3 separate regions of the Homo sapiens genome follow, and all the other regions are reported to be linked to region 3. The links are microRNA targets in miRTarBase. Many come from high-throughput screens and were not tested one by one. Region 3 holds a microRNA gene; each other region holds the end of a gene's coding sequence.
What was found. The annotated mature microRNA hsa-miR-606 reads AAACUACUGAAAAUCAAAGAU and lies in region 3 at 2,912-2,932, opposite strand. An mRNA with a match to its seed (bases 2 to 7 or 8) in the 3' UTR can be bound and repressed. Matches are read on the target gene's strand: a 7mer-m8 pairs with bases 2 to 8, a 7mer-A1 pairs with bases 2 to 7 and ends in A, and an 8mer does both.

Region 1: miRTarBase lists HNRNPC as a target of hsa-miR-606. Seed matches in the 3' UTR shown: 7mer-m8 at 2,025-2,031 and 7mer-m8 at 2,182-2,188.
Region 2: the mRNA of WNK1 is a reported target of hsa-miR-606. Seed matches in the 3' UTR shown: 7mer-m8 at 2,632-2,638 and 7mer-A1 at 3,639-3,645.

Annotation. Positions count from the first base shown.
Region 1 is chr14:21,206,103-21,213,050 of GRCh38, reverse strand. HNRNPC (heterogeneous nuclear ribonucleoprotein C) reads left to right here. Exons shown (of 9, transcript NM_004500.4): 6 at 1-91; 7 at 1,128-1,241; 8 at 1,485-1,645; 9 at 1,745-3,904. The coding sequence ends at 1,828. LINC00641 (long intergenic non-protein coding RNA 641) reads left to right here and starts at 6,151. Exons shown (of 2, transcript NR_038971.1): 1 at 6,151-6,440.
Region 2 is chr12:906,870-913,817 of GRCh38, forward strand. It overlaps WNK1 (WNK lysine deficient protein kinase 1), which reads left to right. Exons shown (of 28, transcript NM_018979.4): 27 at 978-1,165; 28 at 1,606-4,583. The coding sequence ends at 1,923. RAD52 (RAD52 DNA repair protein) reads right to left here. Exons shown (of 12, transcript NM_134424.4): 12 at 4,867-6,583. The coding sequence ends at 6,522. Among named protein-coding and RNA genes, the nearest start is that of RAD52, 39 kb to the right of the region's middle.
Region 3 is chr10:75,548,502-75,555,449 of GRCh38, reverse strand. It overlaps MIR606 (microRNA 606), which reads right to left and starts at 2,992; the gene lies at 2,897-2,992. All of the region lies in intron 2 of LRMDA (leucine rich melanocyte differentiation associated), which reads right to left.

The DNA.
Region 1 (6,948 bases), not on the chromosome of region 3:
CGTCAGCGTGTATCAGGAAACACTTCACGAAGGGGCAAAAGTGGCTTCAATTCTAAGAGTGGACAGCGGGGATCTTCCAAGTCTGGAAAGTGTATGTATTATTTCATTTTGTGATTTTGGTATCTCTTGTGTTTTGAGATAGGGAAGCTAATGCAGTTACAATATTTTTGTGCCACATGACTTTGTGTATTCAAAATAATGGAAGAGGCTGGGTGTGTGGTGGCTCATGCCTGTAATCCCAGCACTTTGGGAGGCCCAGCGGGTGGATCAGCTGAGGTCAGGAGTTCAAGACCAGCCTGTCCAACATGGAGGAACCCCATCTCTACCGAAAATACAAAAAATTTGCCGGGGATGGTGGTGCGTGCATGTAATCCCAGCTAATTGGGAGGCTGAGGCAGGAGAATCGCTTTTACCCAGGAGGCGGAGGTTGCAGTGAGCCGAGATCATGCCATTGCACTCCAGCCTGGGTGACGAGCAAAACTCCATCTCAAGAAAAAAAAAAAAATCCAAAATAACAGAGGAGACAAGATTGTGATTGAGTGGCCAATTCTAGACTGCAACAGCTAGGTAATTTAAAAAATGTCATTTGACTTTATGTAGTTGAGGTGTGCGTTAAGTTCCTGAGATTTTTTTGTGTTATTTAAAAACTAAAATTCAGACAGTGTTCAGTATGTTGATTTTTTTTAACTTTTCTATATTGAACTCCTCCTGTAACTGGAAATATGGAAGGCAGTAAAACATTACAGAAGGTCTGATGCAGTGGTGCGTGCCTGTAGCCCCAGATGCTTAGGGGGAGGCTAAGACCCTGGGGATCTAGGCTGTAGTGGGAGGATTTCATGAGGCCAGGAGTTTAAGTTCACTGTGATCATACGTGTGAATAGTCACTGTCCTCAGGCCTGGTCAACATAGCGACAGCCCTGATCTAAAAGACATTAAAAACAATAAAAACCATTACAGAACGTGCTTTATAATAGAACCAAGGGCCTTTATTACCGAGAAATCTGTACTGGCTCTGTTTCTCCCTGGGTATCTCCTGTGAGCTCCTGATGTAGTCTGGTGGCAGTGTATTTGCTAACTCATATCTTCGGTACATTTGATTTTAATCTAGTATTTTGTTTATATTAAAGTGAAAGGAGATGACCTTCAGGCCATTAAGAAGGAGCTGACCCAGATAAAACAAAAAGTGGATTCTCTCCTGGAAAACCTGGAAAAAATTGAAAAGGAACAGAGCAAACAAGCAGGTAAATGGGTTTTCTGCTTGCCCTTGGTATACAGTTGGGTTAGTTACATAAGGCACTTGAAAGTACATGTTGGAATAGTGGAATATAAAGCAATGTAATATGAAACTTGGGGAGTGTGAATTGGGAAGGGTATTTGTGTGGGAGGATTTAGATTTGTGCTGCAGTTCTGTGATCCTTAGTGGGGATTGTCTACGTCCTGTGGACATTACTGCCCCTAGACAGACTTGTCCTTCTCATCCGCAGTAGAGATGAAGAATGATAAGTCAGAAGAGGAGCAGAGCAGCAGCTCCGTGAAGAAAGATGAGACTAATGTGAAGATGGAGTCTGAGGGGGGTGCAGATGACTCTGCTGAGGAGGGGGACCTACTGGATGATGATGATAATGAAGATCGGGGGGATGACCAGGTGAAAACCACGGGAAAGGAAAGAAAAAGGTGGTGGAGGGGGGCTCAGGGACACATGGAGTGCCTCTAACTCCATCCTGTTTGTGTCTGTTTCTCACAGCTGGAGTTGATCAAGGATGATGAAAAAGAGGCTGAGGAAGGAGAGGATGACAGAGACAGCGCCAATGGCGAGGATGACTCTTAAGCACATAGTGGGGTTTAGAAATCTTATCCCATTATTTCTTTACCTAGGCGCTTGTCTAAGATCAAATTTTTCACCAGATCCTCTCCCCTAGTATCTTCAGCACATGCTCACTGTTCTCCCCATCCTTGTCCTTCCCATGTTCATTAATTCATATTGCCCCGCGCCTAGTCCCATTTTCACTTCCTTTGACGCTCCTAGTAGTTTTGTTAAGTCTTACCCTGTAATTTTTGCTTTTAATTTTGATACCTCTTTATGACTTAACAATAAAAAGGATGTATGGTTTTTATCAACTGTCTCCAAAATAATCTCTTGTTATGCAGGGAGTACAGTTCTTTTCATTCATACATAAGTTCAGTAGTTGCTTCCCTAACTGCAAAGGCAATCTCATTTAGTTGAGTAGCTCTTGAAAGCAGCTTTGAGTTAGAAGTATGTGTGTTACACCCTCACATTAGTGTGCTGTGTGGGGCAGTTCAACACAAATGTAACAATGTATTTTTGTGAATGAGAGTTGGCATGTCAAATGCATCCTCTAGAAAAATAATTAGTGTTATAGTCTTAAGATTTGTTTTCTAAAGTTGATACTGTGGGTTATTTTTGTGAACAGCCTGATGTTTGGGACCTTTTTTCCTCAAAATAAACAAGTCCTTATTAAACCAGGAATTTGGAGAAAAAAAAAACCCTGGTTTTTTATTTTTGTATTTTATTATTGTTTACTTCAAACTTTGTTTTACAGCGTCCTCCACAAAACCTCTAGAATGCACTAGATATATTTTTCTTGGAGTCATAATCATGATGCATACCAACACAACACTACTCAAATTATATTTCATTGAGATGCATGTTGCATTGAGGAGTCAACTTGACATAGAGTGGAGACTTTTTCAAAATGGCTTTTACATCCTAATGAAAGTTTGGGAAGTATATCCTCTCTGCCTTTTCATCAGTGCTTTGTGGTCCAGCTGGCACCCTTTCTGAGGTTTGTGTTTTGTGCTAAATGGTTTTGTCCTTAAATAGGAGAGGCTCAAAAACATCAAGATTTCAGGAAAATGGCGACAGCTGCATAATGGAACCCCCCTGCTTCTATTTTGTTCTTTTAATTACTATTTATAGCCCCAGTTACCTTCTGAATTCTGAAGTGTATATACCTCCATGTTCCTGAAAACAAGAAAACTCTTACTTCCTGATATTCCATAGACTGCCTTCCCAGGTGATTGAGAACATAGAGAATGTTACACATTTATTTTACTCTAAATGATCTTTTACCCCTGTTAGCTAATCTTTGTGTTTTCCTCAACTTTATTAATTACAGTGATTGCATTTTTAGCATCCAGTTGTAAGATGAATATATTAAACAGCTACCAGTGTTGGTGATACCTCATCCTTGAAAGGCTTAGTTCATTTGTGTTTTATACTTCAGTTTTTCCAGCATAGCAGAAAATGCCGCTTATAATTTTTGTGCACACAAACCTTGGATTCCCCTGTAAAGTTGCTATTGTTTCATAGCATGCGGCACTGGCCTTTTTTCATCCTACTCATTACAGGCAAAACTCATGTCTTATTTATGAGGATTTTATAGATCATTTTCTGTAACAGGTGACAAAAGCAGAAAAGAATGAAGAGGCTGAAGTATGAACTACCCTTGGAGCCCATATACATGATATAGGCAATTTCTTTTGTATGTTAATTCAGTCAAAAATACTACCCACTTGATGTTTTCTAATCTGATGTGAGCTCATGTTACACAGACTTTTAGTAAGTAACCCGTGACTAGAAAATAAACTGGATGCTTAGGAGAGAGTGTCAGATGTATAAGATGCTAATAAAACCTGTTTAATATTATTGTTAGCTGTAAGTTTTTGGGAAATACTGAACAAATTAGTCCACAATCAAGTGTCTACTTTTCCCTTCACTGTAGGGCCTCTCCCTGCACAGAGCAGTCTGTTTAGCTGTGAACACCACAATCTGCAGATGTTCAAGTCCCTTACATAAAATGGCATAGTATTTATATGTAACCTATGCATATTCTCCTGTATATTTTAAATCATCTCTACATTAAAATACCTGATAAAATGTAAATGGTATGTAAATAGTTGTAACTTTTTTTATTTATATTTTTGTTAACTTTTTTTAGTTTTTTTTCTTTGCTAGTATTTTCGATCTGTAGTTGGCTGAATCTGCATGTGCAGAACCCATGAACATGGGGGGCCAACTATACATTTTATTCTAGGAAAGCAGGTATTGAATGAAGCTGTGGAGAGCGCTTTTTAATATTAGGTTGGTGCAAAAGTAATTGTGGCTTTTGCCATTACTTTTAATTAGCTGCAGTTACTTTTGCAAATAGCCGTAGAGCATGATCACAGATTGAAAATCTATACACACATATGGTAGGGTTGTTGGAATACTGACATGTCTAGTTTGTGTTGATGGGGAAGTCATTTCACGCTCTTGGTTTTAGGCTACGCTACTGTGGCTTAAATTTCCTCGTGTTTAAGACAACAGTACTCTAGGTTTTCTATAATCACAGGTGTACTCATTGAGTACTTTGACATTTAGGTTCCTAGGCCAAAACTGTAGCAAAGTAAAGAGACCAGGATTGAAATACCACATGGTAAAAGGCTTTTAAAAATCTGATCTAATGCAGATAAGTACAGGCTTTTTGGGAAAGGGGCTAGTGTTTTTAAAGGCCATTTATCAGATGATATGCTTATAGTCAGTGTGACATTACTTAACCCTGGGCCCTGCAAAGTAAGAATTGAGTTGGCTCAATAGAAATTCAGAATAGTAGGCATGGCAGTGCAGGTAAAGGGGTTAGATCTGACGGTAATAATTGAGTGATTTCTGATTTAATAATTGAGGGATTTCAGATTGATAGTCTGATTACACTGCAGTAGTGGAAGTAAGATTTAAAAGTAAAAACATTTTAATTTGGGATAAAATTCAGAACACAAGTTTCTCAATATGCCATGAAATCTAAGAAAATGTCCTGCAATCATTCAAGAATGCAGTTTTCATTTCAGGGTTAGAAAGCAGGAGAGGAGGTAGATAAAAAATCCTTAGTAACATTTTTTTCTGGTGCTGCATAACGTATAATTGGGAAACTTCTTCTAGGGTAATTAATAAATTGCTGCTGTCTCAGTGGGATGAGCTAACTGGAAGCTGTCAGGTGGGAATGGATGCTAAATTTGGGATTCTCAAAAGGAGGGCTCCTCTTGTATTTCACTTCTGATGTTAATATTACCCCAACATGCAAAGATTGTGTGATTAGTACCTATTACTTACGTGGTTTAAATCCTCTTTTTCAGAGGGAACCGGGTGTAATAGAAAAGGAAAATAATGTAAATGGGAACAAAAAGGTGGTAAATTGGAAGGAAATGAACAGGTGTCAAATTAGGATTGGGAAGAATGTAATAGTACAATAGACGTAACCATCATTTAAACCATAAGATAACCATGAAGTGTGAACATACGAATCTACTATAACTTGGCAGTATGTTTTATTCAAGTGTTAGGGGAAGCAAAACCCAGTGTATAATATAGAAAGTACAGAAGTAGAGCAGATGATACACTATATGCAAGTACTAGTGTTTTGAGATAACCTTGATGAAACAATGTGCTTTTGAAAGTAGTCGCAGGATAGAGAAATTGTGTATATTTAATGTGATCAGCTCAGGAACATATGCCTGGCCTGTCAGCATTGACTGACCAATTTTATTTCAGGGGAAAACCAGAAAACATACTTATTCCTACTGACAGTTGACCTTTTTATTTATTAGGGGAATTCAGCTACACTGATGTCAAATGGAGTTTCAGTTTCTGGACCCTAGTTCACATCACATTGACCAAAAAAATGCATTTCATAGGAATTTAGAAGCATCCAAGAAAAAGTACCCTGACCAGAAAACCAGTCGACAGTAGTAAACATATGATGTAGAAATGATTGACCAGTAAATGAGTTACATATAATATGTGGATTATGGTCTGAGTACCTCATTCACACTAAGAAGGAGCACTCTGTTGGAGAATTCTAGTGTTTGGAGAGAACTTGGTATAAAGTAAAAATGTAGCCAGTTGAACTGCAGAGTAAAAGAACGTAGACATACCTGACCAGACAAAAGCTTTCCAAGTGTTAGGAGACAGGAAGTAAATAAAGTAGAAAACTGCAGAATTTGTGTTTGCATTAGTAACTTTCAAGTTAAATCTCAATTTTGAAAAGCAGGGCTTCTTCATTGGAGTTAACGCCCTTTGTGAGTAGAACTACAAAGCATAGTAAGAGGAAGGGGAGAACAGTGTAAGGGGGTGAATGCAAATGACAAAGGGATTAGTAGGAAGGAGTTAGAACCCAAGATAAATGCAGATAGGAAGAGGAAAGCATGTTTGGATTGTTTTTTTCAAGTGGCACTCAGAAATAAAAGTTTGGAGAAACATGGCTCTGAAGCTCTGACAAATTTGCATTTGCAAAAATAACTCCTACAAGACTTTCAGAAGTCTAGGAAAATTGTGGCTTTTGGATTATTACATTACCAAATTTGTGGAGTTTAATAGGTTTCAACTGTCAATGTGCATTAAAATTTCCTGGGAGCAGGGGGATGGGCTTTTAAATTCTGATGTCCAGGTGTGTGCTCCAGGCCTACTAAATCTCTGGGGTTGGGACTCTTCGTTGTTTTTTAAGTTGCCATAATTCCAATTTTTGGCCCAAATTGTGAACTACTCACCAAAGGCAAAACAAAACAAAAAACCCTGTGTGATAAAGAGGGGTGAGGATTAGGAAAGGACACGGGTTTCAAGAAACGGTGGCTGGGTGGCTGGCCAATAAGTTTAGTAGAGGGATGACTGTATATGTCAGAATTAAGTGCAGTAAGAGGATGTGTGAGTGGTATGTTTTCATCAAAGAACTGAAGGCAGCTAAAAGGGCCAAGGTGTACCCTCATTAAAGTCTAGGCCCCAGAGTAAAGAAGGCACCCAAAGAGTCATCTGGTGGTTAGGGAGGGGGAAAATTCCTTGTTATCAACGCATGTTACAGTGAGCTGTTAAAGCTATAGTACTGTCAGTAACACTTCGTGGCGATGGAAGTGTTTTATGATGCATTGACCAGTATAACAACTGGTGACTTTACTGAGCCT
Region 2 (6,948 bases), not on the chromosome of region 3:
ATAAAAAAGTAAAAAATTAACTGGGTGTGGAAGTGCATACGTCTAGTCCCAAGCTACTTGGGAGGCTGAGGCAGGAGGAGTTGGAGGCTGCAGTGAGACGTGATTGTGCCGCTGTATCCAGCCTGGGTGACAGAAAAAGAAGAGACCCTTCCTTTAAAAAAAAAAAAAAGCCGGGCGTGGTGGCTCACGTCTGTAATCCCAGCACTTTGGGAGGCCAAGGCGGGCGGATCACCTGAGGTCAGGAGTTCTTGAGACCAGCCTGGCCAACACGGCAAAACCCTGTCTCTACTAAAATACAAAAATTAACTGGGCATGGTGGTGCACACCTACAATCCCAGCTACTCTGGAGGCTGAGACAGGAGAATCGCTTGAACCCAGGAGGCAGGGGTTGCAGTTAGGTAGGATCGTACCACTGCACTCCAGCCTGAGTAATAGAGTGAGACTCCATCTCAAAAAAAAAAAAAAAGGCTAAAGAATGTGGCAGTGTCCAATGGTTTGGAAACCCACCTTCTCCTTATCCTTAGCCAAGCATCTTTTCCTACTCCTACTTTAACCGTGCCCAATGCACAAGAAAACCTCTTTTTCCCTGCATTCTGCAAAATTCCAGAGCAACTAGCCTTGCTGATTGTATCACACCTCCATCAGCAACGTGATGCTGGGAATAGCGTACTGGCGAGCAGTTCCAATACTCTTAGGTGCTTTGTGAATGGACTGAAAGAGGCCCCTGCCTGTGTACCTACCGTCATCCTGAGTTGTTCAGCCTTAGCAGCAGCTACTGAAGAGAAACTGTTTTCATCACCCTATTATACCAAAACAAATGGCTAAACAAAACCTTGGAATCTTCCCTCTTGCATGGCTTCCCAGTTCATCCTCTTCTCATTCTGTGGCTTGCCATTCATCATCCCGTGAAGTTTTCCCTCTTCCTGAAATTGTAACCTAGGCTTCTTTTAATGCTCGTATTCTGTTGCTTATAATAGGAACCAGCAGCACAAACACTGTTGGGGCAACAGTGAACAGCCAAGCCGCCCAAGCTCAGCCTCCTGCCATGACGTCCAGCAGGAAGGGCACATTCACAGATGACTTGCACAAGTTGGTAGACAATTGGGCCCGAGATGCCATGAATCTCTCAGGCAGGAGAGGAAGCAAAGGGCACATGAATTACGAGGTAAGTCTCTCTTTTGCCGCAGAGAATCCGTAACACACATCTGAGTCAAGGTGATAGAAACAACTAAGCTGCTGCTTAACGTCTTACGCCACGACCTTCTTCAATTTTAATACTTTAGAAAAACAAGGCAAAAATCCCCCAGGTACCCTTTTATTTTTCCTTCCCTGAATTCCTAACCTCTTGTTGGTCAGCTCAACTTTTTCTTCTTCGTTTTTCCTTCGTCATCCTCAACTACACACACACAGACACACACGCACATGACATCCCTCCCTCTCATGAGGATTATTTTCACCCTTACTTGGTAAATATAAAGAGCCAATAAATACTACAGAAGACTGTTCTGCTGTATCTTACAGGATTATACTAGAAGTATATGTTAGCGCCACACATTTTATACCATGGCCCACACCAGACTTGACACGTGGTGGTTTTGTTTTCAGGGCCCTGGAATGGCAAGGAAGTTCTCTGCACCTGGGCAACTGTGCATCTCCATGACCTCGAACCTGGGTGGCTCTGCCCCCATCTCTGCAGCATCAGCTACCTCTCTAGGTCACTTCACCAAGTCTATGTGCCCCCCACAGCAGTATGGCTTTCCAGCTACCCCATTTGGCGCTCAATGGAGTGGGACGGGTGGCCCAGCACCACAGCCACTTGGCCAGTTCCAACCTGTGGGAACTGCCTCCTTGCAGAATTTCAACATCAGCAATTTGCAGAAATCCATCAGCAACCCCCCAGGCTCCAACCTGCGGACCACTTAGACCTAGAGACATTAACTGAATAGATCTGGGGGCAGGAGATGGAATGCTGAGGGGGTGGGTGGGGGTGGGAAGTAGCCTATATACTAACTACTAGTGCTGCATTTAACTGGTTATTTCTTGCCAGAGGGGAATGTTTTTAATACTGCATTGAGCCCTCAGAATGGAGAGTCTCCCCCGCTCCAGTTATTGGAATGGGAGAGGAAGGAAAGAACAGCTTTTTTGTCAAGGGGCAGCTTCAGACCATGCTTTCCTGTTTATCTATACTCAGTAATGAGGATGAGGGCTAGGAAAGTCTTGTTCATAAGGAAGCTGGAGAACTCAATGTAAAATCAAACCCATCTGTAATTTCGAGTGGGTGGAGCTCTTGCTTTTGGTACATGCCCTGAATCCCTCACTCCCTCAAGAATCCGAACCACAGGACAAAAACCACCTACTGGGCTCTCTCCTACCCTGCCCTCCTCCCTTTTTTTTACCCCTCTCTTTTTTATTTTTTCTTTGCTCTTTAGAACCCAGTGAAAAATACCAGGGTACTGGGGTGCAACTCTTTCTTATGATAGGTCATTAGTGCTTTAAGCAAAAGATATTAGCAGCTTTGACTGCAGCATTAGCAATTAGGAAAAAAAAAAAATTAAGTTCCCTGCGGACATGTAACTTTGCCATCAGTTTTGATGTGGAAACACTGTGATATATAAAATGTTGTTGGACAACAGTAGTTTTAAGAGTAAAATATGAAACGTTTAAAAAGTTCCAAAAAAAGCTAGCTCTGTCCTTTACTTATTGAGACACTTTAACTTTTTCCTTTGTATTTCCATTGTATTAGATAAATAAATGTGAATGTAAAATTGTATAAATTACTGTACTTGAATACTTCTGTTTCCCAGTGTTGCTTGCTGGACATTTTAGTGCCTTGGACTTCTATTGCTTCTGCCATTAGCATCAACTTACCAGACCCCAGATCAATAAAGGGCATGTGGAAGGAAATCGTAGGTCCATGTGACCCCAGCAGTCCAGCAGTGGTTATGCCAAAGGGAAATTGAAAAAGTATTTTTTTAAGTCATTCAACAACTTTGTCTAGAGCAGGTGTAAGATGAGTAGGGTGGGAAGTTAGGTTGGCATCAGTGGTTAAAAACAGAAAGTTCTGTTTCGGGAATAGTGAGGAGGGGGTGTTGTAACAAAATTGGACAACTTAAAAGAATGGTGTGTGCTGGGTGAAAGACAAAGACTAAAGAATGAGGAAACAAACGTGATGCCTGGCCAGTGACTGTCATATAAACCTTTCTTATTTGAGCTAGGCTTGAACAGACGTGACCTAGAAGAAACTGAACATAAAGAGAAGGGGGTGGGGGGCTAGTTTTCAAGTTGGGGAACCTGATAGTGAAAAGTCACAGATGGAGAAAATTGCTCTCAGAAAAACTGTTTGGATTGCTTTCCTCTTGTTGCACATGTACCATGCATTTCTCAGCTTGGGGTACTACATTTTGTGGAAAGTTAATCTATCTATCTTTCCACATCTGAATTAATCATTCTAGGAAAGAATACTTATTCCTACTCATTTCCTTTATGATGTCCAAATGGTTGCAGGATCATAATCTATTGTGCCACCTTTATTTCTAGAAGTACAACTAATATGTTCACATTTTCAAATAAATAATACTCCCCGTAAGTAATAACTGCAACCAATCAGTGTTATTCAGTGCTATGCCTCCTTGTAATGGGTAGTTATTAATTATTTTCAGAGCTTTCCGGAAATACTGTCCTAACTGGCTATGTTTAGGATCTTTGTTATCTCTGAAGACAAAGAAAGAAGCTAGGACTCTTAATTTTGGGGTGCTTCTTGACTCTTAGTTGGGAAACTGAAAATATTTCCAACCTTTTACCCACGTCAATGGCATATTCTGGGAATCACCACCACCACCACCACTACCACAGAAAGAGGCTGGAGGCTCCTGTACCCTGTTCATTCCTTAAGGGCCCTGCTTCCCTTAGTAAGTAAGTAAGTTGGTCTACGGCCCTAAATATGCAAATGAGAGCTGAAGGTTTTTAAAAGGTAGAAAGGAAAAGGGCAAGGGCTTCCACCCCTGCTTTAAAATGATTTATTTATTCTCTGCTTGTATTTCTTGTGGAGAGAGTAAGGATAGAACCAACAAGGGGCTGAGTAGCTGAGAAAGGGGCCACCCAAGAGTGAAACATACTTTATACCAGAGGAGCAGTGGAGCCTCATGCAGCACATTATCATTTGTTATTTGGGTTTAATAATAATTTTGACATCTTTTCACTCATACACAAAAAAAGTCAGAACTGGTGTTATTTACTGTTGATTTCATCCTCCTGTGTATGAAATAACAAGCCTAGAGGAATGAACTAGTGCTACTGAACTGTTTAAATTATTTTTGTGTTAATAGTACACTTTGAGTATCTTTTTCCACATTAAAAACTTTCTGAATTATAAATGTTTTCCTTACATTATTTAACAATGTACACTGTTAAAAATAAAAATAAAAATTCAAACTTTGGGGGTTTCTCAGCAGCCGTTAATTGTACATTTTGCACTAACTCTGGGTGTTGCGCTTCTTGTAAGATTGCGCTTTGTGCTTCAGTTTGTTACCTTTGTAGACTTATTTAATGAAACCATTCAAATAAACCAAACTTGCTTTTGTTGAGCTGTGGGGTTTCATTTCCAGAAGATTCCTTCACATTCTCACTGGCACTATTTTGAGTTAAGTGCAATTTATAACTGGATCCCTAATTCCTGGGAGCTCCTTTGCTGTCTCCTTAACTTCGAAAGGAATAGAAACGGTCGGCTGCCGGCTAGTACTTTCAGACTTCCTTATCTCAGGTTCACAGCTTCCCAAATGGGTCTGAGCCAAAAAATAGGAAGTCACTGCTTCAAGATTAGCCACAGCCCAGCCCAAAATAATACGTCTAAAAAAATTATTAAATTGGCTGGGCGCAATGGCTCATGCCTATAATTCTAGTACTTTTTACTTTGGGAGGCCGAGGTGGGCAGATCACTTGAGGTCAGTTTGAGACCAGCCTGGCCAACATGGAGAAACCCCGTCTCCTCTACTAAAAATACAAAAATTAGTCGGGCGTCGTGGTGGGTGTCTGTAATCCCAGCTACTCGGGAGCCTGAGGCAGGAGAATTGCTTGAATCCTGGCAGGCGGAGGCTGCAATGAGTCAAGATGGCACCGCTGCACTCCAGCCTGCGCTACAGAGCCAGACCCCCCCTCTCAAAAAAAAAGTTGTTAAACTGCAAACTTCATTATTTTGGGGGAAGAATTATGAAACATCTGAGCACTATGAAAAGCCAATTTATGGTCAAGGTGGGTTACATCTCACACCTGAAATGGGGAAGTAGAAACAGTTGCGTTTGAGCATCCCTAATTGAAATGCTCTGAGATCAGAAAATTTCTGAGCACTGACGTGATGCCAGAAGTGGAAAATTCCACACGTGACCTCGTGTGACAAGTCGCAAAGCACCAGGCATACAACAGTTTATGCAGCGACCCTAAGAGAAAAAAAAACCCAGCCCTCTTCAGCTGCAGTGTATCTTCTTATACAAAAACTCTGTTTCATGCACAAAATTATGTGTATGAGGCATATACACGAAACACAGGTGAATTCCACGTTCAGACTTGGGTCCCATCCCCAAGGTCTCATTATGTGTATACAAATATTCAAAAAATGCAAAACAATTCTGGTTTCAAGCATTTCAGATAAGCAATATATATATATTCTATTTTGTTAATAAGGTATACGATTTGCTTTCTCAAAAATGCCTTTTCTGGCCAGACACAGTGGCTCACACCAGTAATCCCTGTATTTTGTAAGGCAGAGGTGGGAGTATCACTTGGGCCCAAGAGGTTGTGGAGAGAGCTGTGTTTGCACCACTGAACTCCAGTCAGGGCAACACAGCCAGACCCCGTCTCAAAAAAAAAAAAAAAAAAAAAAACAAAAAACAGCCTTTTTTCGTGGTCTTAGATGATTATTTCCTTCCTTAGGAAAAAATGTCAGTCTTGAAACAATGCAGGATTGTAATGTCATAAATCCATAAATTATTTATATTAAATGAAGATTGTAGCCTGGATTGATACAAAGTAGTGAAAAGCACTGCTCCAACCTTTTTCCTGTCGTGATCCACAGTGCTTAATGTGGGCAACATTAAAGGCATGGACCGTAAAGGAAAGAAGGCAGACGTTATGCAAAACAACTGAATGTAGACAATTGCTGAGGCAGGTGCTTAGGACCAAGTCTGGCCTATATTGCTTGAGGGCAAGGAGCCATTGGTGATTCCTAAAATGTCCATCTTCATTAACATAATAGTTCAGTAATAAATAGTGGGAAGCCTCACAAGCCGAAGAAAAGGTATTCATCTGTCCAGAGCCTCTCCCTACTAGAGTGATGGACAAGCTTTTCAAAAGTGCTCAGCTCTAACTGCAGTGGGCTCTCAGTCAGATCCTCTTGATAAGGTTCAGAATGAAGCAAGATAAATCGCAATGACGTTCATTCTCCAGCAGCGATGAACAATTTCATGACCAAAAAGTAGTTTTCCAAAGTCCCTTTGTGACAGAGTCCAATTATGTGGCCTGAGCCTCAGTTAAGATGGATCATATTTCCTTTTCTTCATGTCCTGGCTCTTCCTATGAGATTCCCAGTTTCCTATGGAAGACAAAATGGCTTAAATGTAGCTGCCATAATTTTAAAATAAACTGACAGCTAATGATTTCTGGATTATATTAATGATCCTAATTTAGACTAAGCCCAAGAATGAGAATTACTGTTAGGAGGAAGGCAGATGATTCTCCTAGACCAAGTGGCCTCGTGCTCATGACAGACCTGCTGCTGGGAGGGACAGCTCTCCATGCAGTCGTTTCCGCTTCCTGCTATTATCAGGAGCTGAAAAGGGCTGCACCTGAAGTCAGGAGCCCAAAGGAAACGTTCTGGCTCTTAAATCAATTCTGTTCTACTTGCAGTACCATTCCCTAATAGAAGTTCCCGATTCTATCAAACTTTAAATGAAATGT
Region 3 (6,948 bases):
GGCTCCACTCTGTGGCTCACTCCTTTCAGAGACCCCACTCCTTCCAGCAGCTAAGGTTGTCCTGAACTCTAGTCTCTGGTTATCCAAGCCAACCAAGATACATATTTTCTATCAAGTTATCTATCTTCCCACATGGCACAGACTGAAGGCTGTACTCAAGAGAAAAGCTGTAGAAAATGAGAAATTCACCCTAAGCCTTTCCCTTCTTCCAAGAGTCAGCTCCCCTTCCGGTAGCTGCCTGCATCTTCTCCCTTAGTAATCATGTAAGAAAAGTGTGGTTGCTCCATAGTTTTCTCTAGAACTCTCTCATAGGGCCATGGAGAGCAGACAGCCCAGGGCCCACCAAACTCCTCCCCATCAGAATCAGAGACTGTCCCTTCTCATCAGATACCCATGGATGCTTAAATCCCAGCCCCTCAGGACTAACTGAAAAGGACCAGTAGATCATCCTGTCCCATCTCCTATGGAGGAGAACAAGAATCCACTCCACCCTGGCTGATATTCTGCTTAAATCTCTCTACTGACAAGAGTATACAACTTTAAGGAAATATAAAAAGAAAAGTAAATGACTTGGACACATTACATACTTCATTTCTTTGCATCTACTCAATCATCCTTTAACGAAAGTATTATCATCCTCATTTTACAGATGAGGAAACTAGGCCTCAAAGAAAGATGTTAACTTGCCTATGTTCTCTCTTCTAGAAAATAGTACAGCCAGGTTTTGAATTTTGGTCACTACAACTCTAAAAGCTCACATCCGTTCCACATTGTCTATCCCACTTTCAACGTCTTTAAACATTGGCAAGTTCTTTCTTAGATTAAACTGAAGTCTGCCACCTTATAATTACCATCATTAGCTGTAATTCATAATTCTAGATTGGGAGCTCCTAAGAGTAGTGATAGGAACTCATTTGTCTTTGCATTCCTAGTACCTAGCACAGAGGAGGGGCTAAATAACTGATCGGTTAATTGATTAATGCCATTAGAAATGTCAGGTAAAAGTCTACACCTACCTCATCACATCAATCTCACAGCTATGTACAGTGACTATCATACACCATGTTCCTCTCTCCAACATCATTTCTCTTCTGCAGTATAAATGTTCCTTGTTTGTTTCATTGCTTCCCATTTGGAAGGATTTCTAGAATCCTCCTGATCACCCTGGACACACTGCAACTGACCAGTGTCACTTAAAATATCATCTAGGAATTCCATTACTTCTCAGGATGCAGAAAACTACAAATAAGCATCACTCCCATACTAAAAGGAAAAAGCCAGATAATCTACAAAATCATAACTTTTCTCCAACCCATCAGAGAGCTGAGGTTGCAAGGCAAATGGTGAACTTAATTTCAAAGTGTGACTAGTCCCTCCAAGAACAGATAGAACACACAAAGCATTTCTTCTTTAGCAGAGGACAGATTGAAAAGGTAGCCATCAAAAAAGTAAATAAAAAGAAAACAGCTAACATTTTAACAAATTTTTTAATGTTGGATATGGGCTAACAAGAAAGTTTAGAATTCCCAAGAGCCCCAGCCACAAGGAGAGTCTGCACTCACTCCTCATTTTTTTCCCCATGGTGCTCACAAGAGAGATTAAGACCAAACAACAGATAAAAGAGAGCCCCCTACACTGTGCACAGGCATGAAATCTTGCCTACTTCCCAGGCCCTTCTCTCATAAAAAAGAGAAGTCATAAGCCACTAAGGAGGAAGCCACTTCCTCCTTAAAAGGTGCGCTTTAACTAAAGGAGAGATAGAAGCAAAATATGTCTGCCTCTGGGTGAAGGGGTAGAAAACCTTTTCAGTTACAGAATCTTGCATAGATATAGAGGCCTGCTGCCCTGGAGGAGGGACAGAAAATGCTCTCCTACCCAAGAGTCCCAACAAATATGAGACAGAAAAAGTCTCATACCTGGGACCCAGATACACAGGGCCTACCTAAGACTGAGATCCTCCACCACACCACAAGCTTCACACTGAGTAATAAGCAACAGCAGTCTAGCCCTCAAAGAGGGGCAACAGCATTGAGAGAGACCCATTCTCTAGAGTAAGCATATGGGACCAGCTGAAAGCTGAGGATGAAATGGAAACTTGAGGAAAACCCTTCATCTCTCCAGGCTCACCACTAAGCAAAGGTAGCAGCAAGCCACCACTGGAAGAATTTGAAGCTGTCATAGAACAAAACTCAGATCTAGCTCAATTACTGACTGCATTGACTCAACTACCCACACTAACATCCCAACAGAAGAGTCTCCATTTCCAAGCATAAATACTATTTGCCTCAGTCTCTACTGTTCTTTTATATGCATTATCTGGCATTGAATCAAAAATTATCAGACAAAAAGCAAGAAAAAAAATGAAGACTCTTGGTCAAAAGATAAAGTAGTCAACATTACCAGAAACAGATGTGATGCAGATGTTAAAATTATCAGATAGGGACTTAAAATAACTATAATTAAGTTTTTAATCTAGAGAAAAAGGTAGACAACATGAATGAATAAATAATTGTAAAAGAGAAATGGAAACTTTTTCTTTAAAATGAGTCAAATGGAAAGGCTAGAAATCAAAAGGATAACAAAAAGGAAGAATTTCATCATAAGGTTTATCAACAAACTGAACACAGCAGAGAAAATGATTTACAAACTTGAAGATAGGTGAGTAGAAATGATCCAAAATAATAACAAGGAAAAAAAAAAGCATATGAGAGCTATAGGATAATAGTAAACAGTATAACATATATTTTGAATCCCAAAAGTAGGAGAGAGAGAAAAGGAAGCAGAAAAAAAAAGTTTGAAGAGATAATAGCTACGAATTTTCCAAAATTAATTAAAAAGAGCAAACCACAGTTCAAAGAACCTCAGAAAATCCCAAGTAGGGGATGAGGGGTAGAAGTGGTCAGGCACTTGTATCTTTGATTTTCAGTAGTTTACTATGATGGGGTGGATGGCACACCTCATCATAGTAAAACTACTAAAAACCAAGGATACAGTGAAAATTCTGAAAGCAGCCAGAGGGGGGGGAAAAAAAAAAAACACAGAACAAAGCTAAGAATGACAGCGCACTGCTCAACAGAAAGAATGCAATGCAAAAGAAAATGGAGTGACACCATTAAAGCACTGACAGAAAAAACTGTCCACATGGAATTCTATACAAGTGAAAGTATCTGCTAAAAAATGAAGGTAAGATAAAGAATTTTTCAGACACACAGAAACTGAAAAAATTCATTGCCAACATACCATACTATGATGATGTTAAATAAAGACCTCAGGCAGGAGTCTGGTACTAGAAGGAAATTCAGATCTACAGAAAGAAAGAGCTCTAGAAATGATTAAAATGTGGATAATAAAAGACAGATTGTTTTTATTTCTTTTATTTTTTAGAGACACGGTCTAACTCTGTTGCCTAGGCAGTGTCTAACTCTGTTGCCCAGGCTGGAGTGCAGTGGTGCAATCACAGCTCACTGAATCCTTGACCTCCTGGGCTCAGGCAATCCTCCTATCTCAGTCTACCAAGAGGCTGGAACTACAGGTTTGAGCCACCACACCCAGCTAATATTTTTTTTAATGTTTTGTAGAGAATGGGTCTCACTATGTTGCCCAGGCTGGTCTCAAACTCCTGGCCTCAAGCGATCCTCTCACCTAAGCCTCCCAAAGTGCTGGGATTACAGGCATAAGCCACAGTGCCCAGCAAATTTTTTCTTAATTTTAGCCTCTCAAAAAAAATAGCTGACTCAATGTGGCACGTATACACCATGGAATACTATGCAGCCATAAAAACGGATGAGTTCATGTCCTTTGCAGGGACATGCATGACGCTGGAAACCATCATTCTCAGCAAAGTAACACAAGAACAGAAAACCAAACACCACATGTTCTCATTCATAAGTGGGAGCTGAACAATTAGAACACATGGACACAGGGAGGGGAACATCACACACTGGGGCCTGTTGGGGGATGGGGGCTAGGGGAGGGGTAGCATTAGAAGACATACATAATGTAGATGATGGGTTAATGAGTGCAGCAAACCACCATGGCACGTGTATACCTATGTAACAAACCCGTATGTTCTGCACATGTACCCCAGAACTTAAAGTATTATAAAAAATAAATAAATAAATATCAAGTAAGCCAGGCCCTCCATGGTCTTACTTTTTAGTGCTTCTACACCTACATATCTCCTGGTAAGGTTGAACCACACTTTCTTTTGTTGCTCTACTTGTGTTCATACTGTTCTATTTCTGTGGAACATCCTTCCTCAAATCCTAGGTTAAAAAAAAAAAAAAAGATAGCTGACTGCAAAATATATTTAGTTTGCAAATAGATTAAACTAGAAAATATTTAAACAGAATATTTTCATTTTCCTATTAATCAAGTAAAAAAAACATTTTCCCAGGTTAAAAAAAAAAGATAATTGCTGTCTAAAGAAAAGATAGTACCAATGATCAGTAGAGTTTATAACATATGTAAAAGTAAAATGTAGACAATAGAACAAAGGATGGAAAGAAGAAAATGGAAGAGTACCATTGTAAGATTCTTAAACTATAAATAAAGCAATGTATTATCTGAAGGTAAACTGTGTTAAATATATATACTGTACACCCTAAAGCAATCACTAGAACATTTTTAAAAGGAGTAAACTTATAAGCCAGTGGTGGAGATGAAATGAAATCATAAATATATACAAATAATTCAAAAGAAGGCAGGAAAAGAAGGAAATAGAGAACATATAAGACACATAGAAAACAATTTGCAAAATGGTAGACTCAAAACCAACTATACCAATAGTTACATTAAGGATAAATGGCCTAAACATTCCAAATTAAAAAGCAGATATAATCAGACTCGTTATGAAAGCAAGACCTGACTATATGCTCTCTAAAAGAAATTCATTATAAATATAAACACAGAGACATATATTAACAGTGAAAAAATAGATACAACACAAACATTACACAAAAACTCCAGTCTGTATAATAACATAATACAAAGTAGGTTTCAGAACAAGGAATATGTTTAGGAACAAAGACTCAGTTCATCAAGAAGATATAACTAATGTATATGTATGCATCTAACAACAGAGTTCCAAAATACATAAAGAAAAATCTGATCAAACTGAAAGAAGTAGACAAAAACCAGGAAGAATAGGAGACTTGAATACTCCTCTCTTAGTAATTTATATAAAAAGTAGATCAAAAATAAGTAAAGATATAGAAGCCTGAACAACACTATCAACCAAATTGAATTAACTGACATCTATAGACGATTCCAACCAACAATAGCAGAATCCACATTCTTTTGAAGGGCCCATGGAACATTCACTAAGACAGACTAGTTTCTGAGCAAATGTTTATAGCTGCTTATTCAAAATAGCTAAAACTTTAAACAGTCCAAACAGCCATCAAATGGTGAATGTGTCAAGAATTGTGGTACATTCACACAATAGAATACTACTCAACAATAAAAAGAAACAAACTAGTGATACATGCAACTACATGGATGAATCTCAAAAGCATTATGCTAAGTGAAAGAAACTAGGCACACAAAAGGGTGAATACTGTATGATTCCATTTTTATGACATTCTGGGGATAGGCAAAGCCACTGAGACAATAATTACATCAGTGCATGCCATGAGCCAAGGAAGGAGAAAGGAGATTGAAAAGTGGGCACAAGGAAACTTTTTATGGCGATAAAAATGTTACGTCTTGATTATGATGATGGTGGTTACATGACTGTATGCATTTGTCAAAAATCATCTGTGCACTTAGAAAGGGAATTAATTGTGCATAAATTATATCTCACTAAATCTGACTTCAAAAATAAAAAATAACCTGAAGCAGTGGCATGTACCTGTAGTCTCAACTACTCAGGAGGCTGAGGCAGGAGGATCACTTTAGCCCAGGAGTCTGAGGTTGTAGTATGCTGTGACTGTGCCTGTGAATAACCTAGACAATGTAACAATACCTTGTCTCTAAAAATATATACAAATAAATAAAATTAAAAACAAATTTAAATACAGTGGTCTGTTGGTATGGGAGATTGGTTCCAGGACACCCCACAAATACCAAAATCTAAGCATGCTCAAGTCCTTTACAGGCAGCCCTTCATATGTGCAGGATCTGCATTCCAGATCAAACATCCCAATATTCAATTGATTGAATATTCTGAGCAAATATTTATTGCTGCTTATTCAAAATAGCTAAAACTTTAAACAATCCAAACAGCCATCAAATGGTGAACGTGTCAAGAATTCTGATACATTCACACAATAGAATACTACTCAACAATAAAAAGAAACAAGCTAGTAATACATGCAACCACATGGATGAATCTCAAAAGCATTATGCTTTTGAGTGAAAGAAACTAGGCACACAAAAGGGTGAATACTGTATGATTCCATTTCAGATTGAATATTCAATTTGTAGTTGGTTGAATTGGTGGATGCAGAAACAGTGGATATACAGGGCCAACTGTACCATTATCCAAGATAGGAAATTGTAGTAATAAACTAATAACAGTAATAATAAATAACTCTTAACATGGTCAGATCAGCATAGGTCTTGACTAACCTTCCTGGAAAAGACTTTTTGAGGAGTTACCTCCTTCTGTTGCCTCAAATGGAACTTCACTGAGCTCCTGGCTCCATTACAGATAGGTCTATACAACCCGAGTATGTATATTTCCGACAGATACTTAGATCTTTTTTATAGGCCAGAGATCAAAGAGATAAGAAATATTACATATTTCAATAACATGAAGGAATATGAAAATTCATTTTCATGTTTGTAATGAGCCACCCAGCATCTGGTTCTGAGTTGTTTTGCTTAAGAATGCAGAGAGTTCAAAAAGGAGTTCTGAGAAGCAGAAGACCATCTGGGGCTCCTGTGCTGAAAATAGGAACTACCCCTCATTGTTTAAGATACTGTGGGATGTCCAGGTCAGAAGGA